Linked DNA regions of Homo sapiens. The protein of the gene in region 2 interacts with the protein of the main gene of each other region in a pairwise test. Each region holds a gene or a part of one and is shown on either strand. Other genes may lie near its edges.

Region 1 (7,025 bases), on a different chromosome or scaffold from region 2:
ATGGGGCTGGGGCTTTCCCACCCCCAGGCGGGTAGGCTGGTAAAGTCCCTGTGCCCCCCCTACTCCCTAGGCTGCCCTCAGACCTCACCCAGGCGTTGCCCTACCCAGGCATTACCTGGCACGGACTGCCTGGGCTGGCCGGGACCCTCCGGCCCCACTGGTGTTAAGGGCAGTGGCGATAGATGAGGTCCTCTGAGGCACCTGTGGAGAGAAGTCCACGTGCTGCGAGCTGGCGCTGCGACAGGCACTTCTCAGATGTTTAAGCCTCACCTCTGAGAGGTGAGCTCCCCCACTTTGATGGATGAGAAAACTGAGGTTCAGGGGAGTTAGTGAATACGTCCAGGGTTATGAAGCCGGATGATGGTGGAGCTGCGGTTCTAACTGGCAAAGTCTGCCCCTTAGCGCTCCCAAAACACCCTGGGCGTTTCTCCGTTCCCACGCTCCCCACAGGGATCGATGCCACCCCTCCACGTCGCGTCCTCAGCTGGACGGCTGACCCCGGCAGGGCAGCGCCCTGGCTTTCTCTCGCTTCCCGCCCTGCACTCTTCCTCCATGTGGCCTGCCCCTTCACTGCCCTCCTTCTCTTCATGACTAGCTCTCTGCTTTTCCCTGGGCCTGCAGAACTGTCCTTACCTTGGGTGGGGCCTCGTTATCTGGGCGGACCCAGGCTGGGGGATTCGGGCTGGGGCCAGGTCCTTCAGAGGTGGGGTCTGAATTCTGGCGGATGACAGCTCCTCGGGCACTGGGCGTGGCAGTGGGTGCGGGGATGGCAGGGTCGGGGTCATGGGAGGCTGGGAAGGCAGCCAGGTTTCGGGTGGGCTGGTCCTGCAGGGACTGGGATCGGGGTACAGGTGCTGCATATGGCTTCAGTGGGACCCGGTGTGCCACCAGGCTCTGCAGGGAGAGACCAGGGAGGGTGGGCTGCCTGCTCCATGGCACATCCCCACCTGCGAATTGGGGTCTGGGGTGGGAAAGGACTTTAGCTGCCCCTTCCTCCATTGAAGGACAAGGGGTTCCTTGAGCCTGATGACAGCTAAGTCAGGACAGACACAGGCAGCAAGAAGCAGGTGAGTGAGTCTGTCCACAAAGCCTGTGCTCTGTAATCCTGGCTCACGGCTGAGCAGGTGTGTGTGTGTGTGTGTGTGTGTGCGCGCGTGTGTGTGTACCTGTGCTCTGAACAAAGCTCCCTGTGTCTTCATTAAGACAGGGGTGGGGAGAGACTCACCTTGTGCGGTCCCTCCTGGGGCTCCACCGGCCTCTGCATAGGAGGAGTCTGGGAAAGGGGTCCTGGGGGCCCTGGGGAGGCCTGGGGGATGGGGGGCTCAGGCCCCGTGCTGCCTGGCTTGCTCTTGGCCAAGGGAGAGTTCTGCTGCTTGTTCATCCTTGTTCTCTCTTCTACCTGTGATGTGAAGGGATGTCAAGCAGGCCAGCTCTTGCCTCCCTGTTCTCAAAACTGAGGGTCCCACCTGCCCTAACTACTCCCGCCCTATGCTCTGTGCTGTGTGCTCCTTTCCCCTACTTGGTGCCTGCTACTGTGAACTACTACTTCTTGTGGCTCTCCAGGCCTCAGGCAGTGGGACTGCAGTCTCAGGAGGCAAAGGAGGCAGTGAGTACCTCTCGGGCCCAGGCTGGTTTGTCAGCGGGATTCATGCCCCGACCATAATGGTACAGGGGCTTCCTGTCCCCAGGCAGGAGCTGCTGCTGCTGCTGTTTCTGAAGCTGCTGCTGCTGTTGCTGCTGCTGCAGGGACTTGAGGTAGGCATGCTCCTGCTGCAGCTGCCTCTGGAGACGTTCTGACTGCCGCTGCTCCTCCAGCTGCTTCCGCTTGTATTCCTGGGCCCAAGGGTAGGGAGAGAGGGCTCAGCAGGGTGTGGCCCTGGGAGTTAGAGCAGGCATGCCCTCTCTTTTCTCCAACTGCCTAGAGAGGAGATGTATTCCCTTGATGTCCTGGGTGAATCCCTTCCCTTGAAGTGTTCCCATCCCGTTCCAGCAAAGAAGCTCTGAAAAGCATCTTCCCAGAGGACGCTGAGGGACCCGTTACCAGCAGCAGGGCCTGTTCCTGGAGCAGCTGTTGCTGAAGGATCTCGAGCTGTCGCTGCTCCTCCTCTAGCCTGTGACGAATATATTCCTGGGGGACGGGGTGTGGGGTGGGGGGCAGAGGGCAGGGAAGGAGGAAGAGGCAGAGGAGGGCAGCAGCAGCGAGTTGGAGAAGGAGGAAGGGATCCGCAGGAGAATGAGGGGGTGCAGGGGAAGAGTAAGAGAGAGGTAGGGGAGGGGATGACATGAGCCCCAGGGGGCCATGCGGCACAGATGGGGAAGAAGAGGGCACAGGGAATGAGGGGGGATGAGGAAGGGGTCGGGGAGTCAGGGATGGGGTAAAGAGATGGGAATGAGGCAGGGAAGGAAGAGGGAGGGGGTCAGGGTTGGGGTTGAAGGGTGGGAGAAAACAGAGAGAAAGAGTGAAGCTAGAAAAGATAGGAGGAATCTGGGGGTGGGGGAGAGAAGGGGGAAGGGCACGGGGAGCAGGGGCGGCAGGCAGCAGGAGCGGGAGGGCGGGAGGGCAGGGATGCGGGTGCGGCGCTCTACCTGCTCGCGCTCCGCCTGCCGCCGCTCCTCCTCCCGCCGCAGAGCCTGCATGTCCTCCAGCCGCCGCTGCTGCTCCTTCTCCTGCAGCTTCCGCTGCTCCCGCTCCCGCCGCTGTTGCTGTGGGGAGAGCCAGGTGGTCTTAAGAACCATACCGGACATCGCGTCAGCACTGCCCCTCCATGGACAGGGAGGGGAGCCCTCCTTGCTCACCACGGAGGGTGGTAAGAGAGACCGGCTTCCGCTTGTTTCTGCAACTATACCCATCCCCACCCAAGGGCCCGCGGGGCTGGGCTCGGGTAAACAGCCGGTAGCTGTGACGAGAGAGGCTGTGAGACTGACTGCTGCCTGTGGGGTGGGCTTAGCTAGACAACACCTTCCACTCCCCACACCCCACCAAACAACAAACCAAAGCCGAACTCAAAACAAGCCTCCCCAGCACTCCTAGCCTAAAATCGACCTTTGCCTGAAGTCCATATAGAGCGGGTCGTAGTGATAGCCTTTGGCCACAAGAGGGCACCAGGTGCCCGTGCACAGAAAGCACAGAAAAGAGGGACCTGGCCCACTCCTTGACAAGCACCAGTGCCCAGGTGGTACTTTACTTTCACGGTATTTCTGTGGTGGCTTTCACGAAGTCTACCACCACCACCACCAACAAAAGCACAAACCCTGAGGGACCCTTACACTTGAGGGAACTTGTGCCTACTTCTGCAATGAAGTTGCCAGCAGGCCTTCTCCAGGTAACACCTTGTTAGATAGGACTCTGTGGCTGGGCGCGGTGGCTCACACCTGTAATCCCAGCACTTTGGGAGGCCGAGGCAGGTGGATCACCTGAGGTCGGGAGTTCGAGACCAGCCTGACCAACATGCAGAAACCCTGTCTCTACTGAAAAAAATACAAAATTAGCCGGGCGTGGTGGCGCATTCCTGTAATCCCAGCTCCTCAGGAGGCTGAGGCAGGAGAATCACTTGAACCTGGGAGACGGAGGTTTTGCGGTGAGCCTAGAGTGCGCCACTGCACTCGTCACCCTGGGCAACAAGAGCAAAACTCCATCTCAAAAAAAAAAAAAAAAAAAAGATAGGACTTTGTTACTATACTATCTGAACGCTATATTTATTTTATTTTTTTATTTTTTGGAGACGGAGTCTTGCTCTGTTCCCCAGGCCAGTGGCGTGATCTCAGCTCACTACAACTTCCACCTCCCAGGTTCAAGCGATTCTCCTGCCTCAGCCTCCTAAGTAGCTGGAACTATAGGCGCGTGCACCACCACGCCTGGCTAATTTGTGTATTTTTAGTAGAGATGGGGTTTCACCATATTAGACAGGCTGGTCTCGAACTCCTGATCTCACGATCCGCCCCCATCCTCCGACTCCCAAAGTGCTGGGATTACAGGCGTGAGCCACCTCACCTGGCCTATATTTTCAAAACTGCACAAGGCTCTTCTGTAGCAGGTTTTCTTGCAAATTATTTTTTGTTCAACAATGAGAGGGCCTACTTTGGAGGTAGCAGGTGGACAGTGTGGGTGCTGCGGGTTATTGCTTATTATTATTAGAGACGGAGTCTTGCTCTGTCACCCAGGCTGGAGTGCAGTGGTGTGATCTCTGCTCACTGCAACCTCCGCCTCCCGGGTTCAAGCAATTCTCCTGCCTCAGCCTCCGGAGTAGCTGGGATTACAGGCATGCGCCACCACACCTGGCTAATTTTTGTATTATTAGTAGAGATGGGGTTTCACCATGTTGGCCAGGCTGGTCTCAAACTCCTGACCTCAGGTGATCTACCCACCTCAGCCTCCCAAAGTGATGGGATTACATTTTGTGTTAAGTCCAGCTCATCATGAAATTTGAAATCATATAATTGTTTCAACAGAAATGCCATTCATTTAAGGCATTTTAAAACCTGTTCTCCAAGGCCCTAATGGACCCGGGGCAGGTCAGGAGGAGGCCGCGCCAGGCCTGGGCCCTTCGGAGACAGCCCACCTCCTCCACGCGGCGCCGCTCCTCCTTCTGCTCCTCTATGCGCCGCTGCCGCTGGTGCAGCAGGTGTTTGATGTGTGCCTCGGGGTCTCGCTGCTGCTGCTGCTGCAGCTGCTGCTGCTGTTTTAAAGCCTCTGAGTTGCTCTTATTTTCCTGCTGGAGCCGGAGAAACTCCCGGCGTAGAGTCGACTCTCCAGGCACGTTCATGATGGAGCTGGGCAGGGGTGGCACAAAGAAGCACTGGGGTCAGAACCCTGTTGGTTCCCACTCTCAACCCCGTGGGCCCGCCTGAGTGGGTGCTTTAACTGGATCAAAGCCTCTGCCTCTGGCCACTCCCAGGTGGCCAGGAGACTTACCGTCCCCTTCTGCCCAGTCTTCAGTCCTGTCCTCCTTTCCTATTACTGCTGCGCCCCACATTCACCACAAATTGCTCTCTCCCCAGCTCTTGCTCAGTCATTGGTTCCACTTCTTAGCACTCAGAAATTTGGTTTCCAGGAGTCTCTACCTCTCTGTGCCCACCACCCCCAGGCTGAGAGTCCCCAAAGCCAAGCACCACTGTAGTCCCCCCACTCAGCGATGACCGCCCCAACCCCCACTCCACCTGCCAGGCCTACCTTGGCTCTCCTTCCTCTCCATGGCTGTCATCTTCCTCCTCGCTGCCGCTGTACTCATATTCTGTCTCCTCTGCAGGGGGAGGCCACTGCAGTTATCTCACCCAGCGCCCCAGACCCGCCGTGGGCTAGGGAAACCTTGGGTGGGGATAACCAGGTCTCTCTGGCTGGGCAAGCATGAGGGGCCCCACCCACTTCCTGGGGGCAATGGGAGGACAGCGGGTCTCAGGTGTGGGCCTGGACAGGACCGGGACTGGGTCCCAGGGCAGCTGAGGTGTGGCAGAGCCTGTGCTTGTGCTCGCACACACATGTGCTTAGCATGGAGTTTTTGTAAGGATGCGAAAGGCCGGTCCTCCTTTGGAAGGCTGATTCAGACTGGGAGGGAAAGGAGGGAAAACCCCTTGGGGGTTGCAAGTTTGAGAACGATCTCCTTGGACAGGGAGAGCTGGGGCCAAGGAGGGGAGCAGGAAGGGGTGCCAGGAGCGAGCAGGGCTGGCAGAGAGGAGCCAGGCTGGAGTGTCCCCTAGTACCTGCCCCCTCCAGCCTGCCCACTGACCTTTCTCACCCCGCTTCTTCCGGGATCGGTCAATGTGGTCCTTAAGCTGGATGCGGACCTGCCGCTCCGTGGGCTGGTCCCGGATGAAGGGAAACTTCAGTAGCTGCTCCGTGGGTGGGCGGCTCAGGTAAGTCTTGATGAGACATGTGTCAATGAAGTCAATGAACTTCTTAGACCTGGAAACAGTGGTGGCTCACACTGGGAGGGTCCCCTCAGAAGGGATGGGTGCAGGAGGAAGAGGGTGGATCATTCATCCACAAGCCACCTTGACGTCCCTCCTGTCTTCATATCCCAACACCAGTCACCGCCCTCTGCCCCCCAGAATCTCTTCTCTGGTGAGATCCAAGCCTGAGCACAGAGGGCATGAAGGTGGGGATGGCCTTGTCCAGGGACCTTCCTTCCCAGAGCCCACACTCTCAGAGACCTACCACTTCTTGGACTTGAGCCTGGGCGGAGGGTTCCGAGGAATGAGGAAGAGGGCTCGCATGGGGTGCATGTCACACAGAGCTGGACACAGAGGAGACACCCTCAGTCCCTTTCACTGCACTGGGAGCTACAGGACCCTTCCTCGGCAGGGTCCCAGGACCCACCTCCTCCCTACAGCCACTCTCTGGGCCCTTCCTTTCCCTCCCCTCCCACTCCCGGCAGACTCAGAACTTACGGGGGGCTCCCTCTGCCATCTCGATGGCTGTGATTCCTAGAGACCAAATATCACTCTATAGACGGGAAAGAAGGAACAAGTGAATATTCCTGACAACTCTGCCCTGCAACCTCTCTTCACCCACCATCCTGGCCTCTCAGGAGCCTTCCTGGGCCACACCCATTCCTGCAGCAGTGCCTTCCAACCCATCCCATCTTCCCACCCACACTTGCCTTGCCGTAAGATGTTCCCCAGCCCCTCACTGCTAACATCATCTGACCTTCCTCTGTTCCCCAGCCTGCTCAGGCCCCGTGGTCCCCATATTGCTTCCCGCCCTTGGCAGCCCCCATGCTCCCAACTTTCCACTCCATACCCTGTAATCATAGGTGGCATCAGGGTTCTCATCACAGGCGATGACCTCTGGAGCCATCCAGTAGGGAGTCCCAATGAAAGTGTTCCGTCTGCCCACGGTGCGGTCCAGCTGAGCACTCACCCCAAAATCCACTGTGAAGACACAGAGGGAGGGGTCAGTGTGGGGAGTCACCTCTGCTCCCTTGCCTCACATCCCTGCGTGCACACACAGGACTTGCCTGAGCCAGCTGTGGTCCTGGCCCGACCCAGACACCCCAGCACCCTCCTTTACCCCACCACCATCCTGAAGA
Region 2 (7,025 bases):
GTTTTGCCTTGGGACTCTCTTGGTAGATGATTTTAACTGTGTGAAAAGATGAATGAGGGGACTTAGAAAAGCCTTTCTGATTCTCATTTCCAAATTCAAAGAGAATTATATTTCAACCTGCTTATCACTAAGAAGATACCAGCATGTTAAAATTCACATGAAGTATGACCTTCTTTAAATACGCTACGATGCAGCACCCTCAAAAGTAAAGTACAGAAACTGACAGTAGTGGTATCTGTCTACAGTTTATCATTGGTGAATAAATGAAGGGAAGAAGGAATTGAGTCTGGACTTGCCGCATATGGAACCATGAACTATACACATAGAATGTTGTTTGGGGTCACAAAGTAGTAGATTAGGCCAGTGATTCCTAAACCCTGCTGAACTTCAGAATCCATCTTCAGAGCTTATAGATATAGACATATTACATATTTTAATAGACTCTTGGGTCCTGATCCCACAGATTTAGATTAACTAGCTCTGGAATAGGGCCCAGAAATCACTATCTTTAAAAGAATTCTCAAGTTGTGTTGATGATCAGCCAAGTTCAGACACGACCAGAATAAAATATATATACGTATACATACCTACATATCAGGACAGTTACAAGAAAGGAGAAAGCAAAATAAAGTATTTTGATAAACACATCAAGTTCTTTTGAGTTACTGATATTTTAAAAAGCTGTCTCGGTGAGAAGCCCATTAACATTCTACAGCTAAGTGATGCTACAGCCAGTATTTCTGATGTTTCATTCAGTCCATTAAGCAGAGCTGCTTAAAAGAACTAGTTTTATTTATTTATACATTTATAATCAGGTTCATGAATACAGTCAACACTATGGAAATTCTTGTCAATAAAAAAGTGTTTGTCCACAGACTACACACAGAAATAAAATTATTAGACCTGCATCAGTCACCGTCTGAGCTGGTCATGCCCTTAAAGGAAATTTCAAGGAAGATGGGCTGAAGTTGGTGAGATATCTGCTGATGTTTAAGATGTAAGCAAGGTGGTATCTTACTCATGATCAGGTTAACAATAACACATACATTGAACAGTTTGAGAATTTTGCATCTTTAGCTTTATGTCCAAATGATGAAAAGGGGGTAAGGAAGAAATGATGAAAAGGGGGAAATGATGAAAAGGGGGAAAATGAAGGCAACCTGCAAAACTGATAATGAAAATAGAACATGAAAGTAACTGTCATCACCCACTAACAAAGCACCTCATCTTCCTAAATAACAGAGTCAGCCCTCTAAGTCAGTCTGTCATAAGTGCCAGATTTGTTTTCTGAGGCCACTTTTGGCACCCGAATTCCTGAGGTCTAGCTTCAAATGAGCATTTCCTCCACTGCCAGAGTCCTGCAGGAGGCTGTAGAGATGGATCCCACAGCTGGTCCCTGCACTGACAGGCATGCTGTCGCCGGCTCAGGCATTGTCTAGGGCATGTCCTGCTTAGAATGCTCTTCCCCTAGAACCTGCACGGTAGGGAGCAGATTCCCAGAAACCCTTCCCATCTTTGTTCACAGCCACTTTCCCAACAAGGCCTGGGATCATCTTATTTAAAACTGTGGCACCTGTGCTCCCCACCCACCACCTGATCCACATCTTTTTTTCCATTGCACTTAACACTTTTATTGTAAACCCAGAATTGACTTGTTATGTTTATTGTTGATGTCTGCGCCCTCTGCTAATTACAGAGCTTTATTTGCTTTGTCCATTGATGTAAGTGTCTAGAATAGTGGCTAGCACTTAGTATATAAATATGTGTTGAGTGGATGGATAAGTACATGATGTATTGATTGTTCGATTGTTCATTACTAGCTATTTATGCCACATCAGGCAGTTTTCAGTATAGCCTTCAGTATTCACGTAGTTAAAACCATCCCAAATATTTGTGTTTGAACAACGTTGTCTGTGAAATGGAACTGCCTAGGTCATGAGTGCATTTTGGAGTTCTGCTGTTGAGTCAGAGCATGCTGGCAGTAGTGGCTCCGCTTGTAGAAGTGAAACCTCCTGCTTATGTTTTGGCCCCATGAGATCTCATAAGATTTCCCCCAACATTTTTGGCTTTACTCCTGATGCACACTTTCATATCTCTTAAAGATCAGCCTGTTGGACGTTATTCTTAGAACAGTGCTAAGCACTCAGCAATTAACCTAGTCAATGATATGTGTTGACTGTGGGTGTGACCCACCATGTCTGTTGTGATTTTTAACTTCAGAGTATCTTAGGAATTATCCAGTCCAGCTCATTTTATACTTCAAGAAACTCAGGAAACCAAGATTAGGTTAATCTTCTAAATTCACAGTACTAGCTAGAGGCAGCCCCTTCTGGGACAGGAGTCCTAGTCTGTTTGGTTTCTTTTTTTTTTAAACCCACCATATTGCTAAAACAGATAGCAACACCAGCTTCCTCATGCAGTGCAGTCATCTACTGTCAACACAGGTCTTGGCTTCTTTCCCTTCAGCGTCTCACCCATCTTTCTTAAGGAGGATCCAGATTTCTCCAAATGTTACCTTCATATGGGACCCTATTCTGTCACCCCAATCCAGAGCCTTCTTAGAATGCCTTTCCCACAGGGGCCAGTATATTCTCTCGAGTGCCCGCTGTTTGGGAATGCTTGCTTTTCTGCTTTCCTAGGCCCCCATCACCATGGATGTTCAGCACAGGGACTCTGGAGAAGCACCTGGTTAGTGTCTGGTGGCTGCTTTGTTGTTTTTGACTCCCATCTTTTTTGCCTGTCTCTTCCTCCAGCTTCACCCTCAACTCGGTTTGCCCTCAGGAGTTCTTTACCTCCTTTGATCAGTTTCTCCGGCTCCTTCTTCACCCTTTGTGGCTTCTCAAGGCCACATCACTAGAGTTAGGAGGGGAAAGAAGCAAGCACCCTCCTTTTATCTAGTACTTCATTTTTTTCAGCATTATCTCATTTGCCCTTTACAGCAACCCTGTGTTAAGTGGGAACAGATACTCTTACTCCCTTTTTACTATCAAAGAAATGAAATACAGATATGTAAAGGAAATGATCTCATTGGCAGAACTGGAAGCAGAGCCTCCAAATCTGGGTGTAGAATCTTTTCTACTGTCCCAAATTTTAACAGAGAGACAAAATTTATCACCGTCTGGTATTCTGAAATGTACATAATTTTTCTCAACATCGTACTCAGTTTAAAAATCTTCTGAGGATATTAATGTGGATTTCTCTAGTGTCTTTAGAAACTTGATTTTAGAAAAGGCCACTGACAAGTTAGTGATATAATAAACAGGTCCTCTGATACTGACTGCATTTTCATCTACATTTACCAGTTATTAAATGCTGTTATATGTGGAACTGTGTTTGCAATATTTTATTTACTGTTTTGAGAATTAGGTTGATGGTAAGATTTATTCAAATTCTTGATTTTAATAATGTATCAATACAACTTAATAATTTGATTTATTTGCAAGTTTTGAAAATCCACATATTCTAGTAGATCCTGAACTTAACTAAAAGTGTAAGAAATATTTCACATATAAAACATGATACAGGCTGGGTGCGGTGGCTCACGCCTGTAATCCCAGCACTTTGGGAGGCTGAGGCGGGCGGATCACGAGGTCAGGAGATCGAGACCATCCTAGCTAACACGATGAAACCCTGTCTCTACTAAATATACAAAAAATTAGTCGGGCGTGGTGGTGGGCGCCTGTAGTCCCAGGTACTCAGGAGACTGAGGCAAGAGAATGGCGTGAACCCGGGAGGCGGAGCTTGCAGTGAGCAAAGATCATGCCACTGCACTCCAGCCTGGGAGACAGAGCGAGACTCCGTCTCAAAAAAAAAATATATATATATATATATTTATATATTTATATTTATATATTTATATAGATATTTATATATTTATATATATTTATATATATATTTATATATATATTTATATATTATATATATTGTATTTAAACATTCTTTAAAATATTTATCATTTATCTCAACTAATAGAAAGTGATCTTATCACTTTTTATTATTCATAGACAGACTGAAATTTGTTTTAACTTAAATTCAACCAATGTTTTACTTAATTTTATTAATGTTTTTAAGTTACTCCACTGTCAAGCAAAGCATTTTAAAGTACACTGTGATGTATATACTTTCATAAGAAAAACGAAATGTAATTACATTTTGCAAGTAACACAAATTGGAAGCTGACATTGTCCTGACATGGCTGGCAGTGTCTGCTCCCTGCCAAGCTTCTCTGTATAGCCAATCAAGAGAGTTTATATGCAAAGTAGCAAATACATGGTGTTTTGTAATGCAGCTTTATTCTCACTGCCACTTGCCCTCCTAGAGGCCATGGGATGCACAAATTGTTTGTATGTAAGAGTCCTAGAAGATGTTAAAAACCCTTGTGTCTTATGTTCAGAGCTGTCAGCATGATCTAAGGCCCGAAATCGTAAGGTACAGTAGTGTACAGTAAATTTATATAAAGTCCTTTGATATAAATTGAAGTTGTCCAAATTCATTTCCTATAAAATGATAATATCCAAATTCTAGGTTTGCCTTTGATGTTGTTCCTTCCACTCATTTTTAAGTTGTTTTCATGTTTCACATTGCCAAATGGCACACTACCTGGAGTATGCCCTCTTGTTGAGACCATTCTTAGTTTGATATAGTGTCAAAGAAAAAAAGTGAGAATGTTGGGAATTTGGTTTGCTTTACAAGTTAGGATGAGTGGAGAGAACCCTCTTGACAGGATGAAGAAATCTGTGGAAGTATCATAGCGAACAATAACCACCTGCCTATTATCCAGTTTCCTGAATGATAAAAATTGTCTATGCATCCTGCCTCAAAGGCTTGACCATGGGGTGGTTTTCTCTTCTGACAGATTTAGCTGTTTCCAGTCACATTTGTTATCACTTTTGTGCGATCTTGCTGTTTAGCTCCTTTAAATCAGAAATACATTCTGCTTATGGGAAGACACACACACACAAACACACACACACACAGATTTATACTAAAATCACAAAAACCTTTTAAAATGTCTTGTGAAAATATATTAGCTATCTTTCTTAGAACAAACATAAAGAAGAATAGTAAATAAATGTGCAGTCCAGCACCAGTGTTGACATCTGTTGTGAAATGTGCTACATGGAGTAACCATTGTAGAGACAATCATCTTAGGCACCAAAATGACTTAGGAGCTTCTTTCTTTGTTCTTTCTTATCACTTACTATTTTTATTAGTTTAGCTTTTTCCAAACGTGTTTACTCAGAGATACCTATTTTAGTTAGGAAGAAAAAGAGAAATAACACCAATTAAAGCTAATTGAGGCTGAATTCTTGTCAGTCTTAAAAGAATCCTAATTGTTTCTCTTTGAACTGACTAATCCATAAAAGTTTTCTGAAGGGATGGGGTGTGGTTGTATTTGATAGCTTCCATTTGGATGATTTCTACTACCTTTTTTCTTGTTTGAGAACTATTAGAACGAACATGATCATTTTTTCAAGCTGGAGTGCGGTGGCACGATCTCAGCTCACTGCAACCTCTGCCTCCCAGGTTCAAGCGATTCTCCTGTCTCAGCCTCCCGAGTAGCTGGAACTACAGGCACCTGCCACCACACCCAGCTGATTTTTGTATGAACATGATCAATTTTATACACATAGAACATAGTAAAATGCTGATAATTATAAGTTGTTTGTTTACTCATTGTAGCTATTTACTGTGTGATCAACTGTGAAATTTTGTGCAACCCTCTCTCAGAATGGAAAAAAAAGAGGATTTAGTCTGAGTTTCTGAGAATAATTTTCCAAGTATATCTGGAAAGGTAAATTGATTTTAAAGGATATATAATTGATTAATTAAAACATCATTTCATAAAACTCATTTTATCATCCACTGTGAGAGCAGCTTCAAATGCCCTCAGATCTAAGTATCAAGCCAAGTGGTACAAATCATTTTCATGCAACTGAAGATACCATTTATGTTGGAATAGCCCCCAAAAACGAAAATACACGTGACCTGTTTAACTTTGTGCTAACTGTTACAATGTATGTGTGTTTTGTTTATTCTCTCATAGGTATGAGAAAGTGCCAGTCATCTTGGTTGGGAACAAAGTGGACCTGGAAAGTGAGAGAGAAGTATCGTCCAGCGAAGGCAGAGCCCTTGCTGAAGAGTGGGGCTGCCCCTTTATGGAAACTTCCGCTAAGAGTAAAACAATGGTGGACGAACTCTTTGCAGAAATTGTGAGGCAGATGAACTATGCTGCTCAGCCTGACAAAGATGACCCATGCTGTTCTGCATGTAACATACAATAGCATCCAAATATGGCTGTCCTGGATGGGATTTGCCCAATGTCGTAGGTGATAGAAAACTCGCCTACTCCACTGCAGAACTTGCAGAATGCGTGGTGTTAATCTACAGAGAACTGCAGCCCTTATTCAGAATTGAGCAGTGATTGTCAGTTGATATCTCTGAGTAACATTTGGGTTCAGTAACTACAGTTTTCACCATTTGTCCTCAGTCTCCTTTATGCATCTGCAACTTTAAGGCATAGTCCATCGATCTACAGGGTGATCTCATTTGAAAGCTATGATGGCATTGTCGCTGAGTTGACAGAAGCAACTATTGTACAAATTAAAAATAACCATAAGGGAGAAACCAGAAGAATTCCTCTGACCACTTACAATTAAAATATTTTGTCTTCTTTAAAAAAATAAGTAAAGGAGAAATATTTTCCTACAAGAGTACTGAATTTCAGGAAATGGGATAGAGCTTCTAACCAATGTATTCCGTCAAGTAAGATAATAACAGCTGACCTGCCAACAGCATTACAGGGAGATTCTTTGCTCAGCTAACACATTTCTGTTTTTCAAAATTGATGCTTAATTGTAGCTGTTATTCTAATTTGTGACATGGAACTAACTCATGCTTCAATCCTTGATAGAGCAAAACTCAGAACAGGTTATGTAAAAATATAGTCTGGCTTTAGAATTTGTTAATTCACCTGCTTTGCCACAGAAAATGGAGGCTTTCACAAGGGTTTGATCAGAATTAAA

The links. The genes of interacting proteins can lie anywhere in the genome.
Region 1: the proteins of RAP2A (region 2) and MINK1 interact in binary tests that used the Homo sapiens proteins (3 or more experiments, as listed by UniProt).

The regions. Positions count from the first base shown.
Region 1 is NC_000017.11:4,885,325-4,892,349, reverse strand, and holds part of MINK1 (misshapen-like kinase 1), read right to left. Parts: intron 6,868-7,025; coding exon 6,737-6,867; intron 6,440-6,736; coding exon 6,385-6,439; intron 6,231-6,384; coding exon 6,152-6,230; intron 5,900-6,151; coding exon 5,724-5,899; intron 5,241-5,723; coding exon 5,171-5,240; intron 4,771-5,170; coding exon 4,560-4,770; intron 2,704-4,559; coding exon 2,587-2,703; intron 2,129-2,586; coding exon of another isoform or gene 2,042-2,128; intron 1,834-2,041; coding exon 1,615-1,833; intron 1,400-1,614; coding exon 1,226-1,399; intron 895-1,225; coding exon 634-894; intron 202-633; coding exon 116-201; intron 1-115. UniProt on the Homo sapiens protein: Serine/threonine kinase which acts as a negative regulator of Ras-related Rap2-mediated signal transduction to control neuronal structure and AMPA receptor trafficking.
Region 2 is NC_000013.11:97,458,159-97,465,183, forward strand, and holds part of RAP2A (ras-related protein Rap-2a), read left to right. Parts: intron 1-6,046; coding exon 6,047-6,284; 3' UTR 6,285-7,025. UniProt on the Homo sapiens protein: Small GTP-binding protein which cycles between a GDP-bound inactive and a GTP-bound active form. In its active form interacts with and regulates several effectors including MAP4K4, MINK1 and TNIK.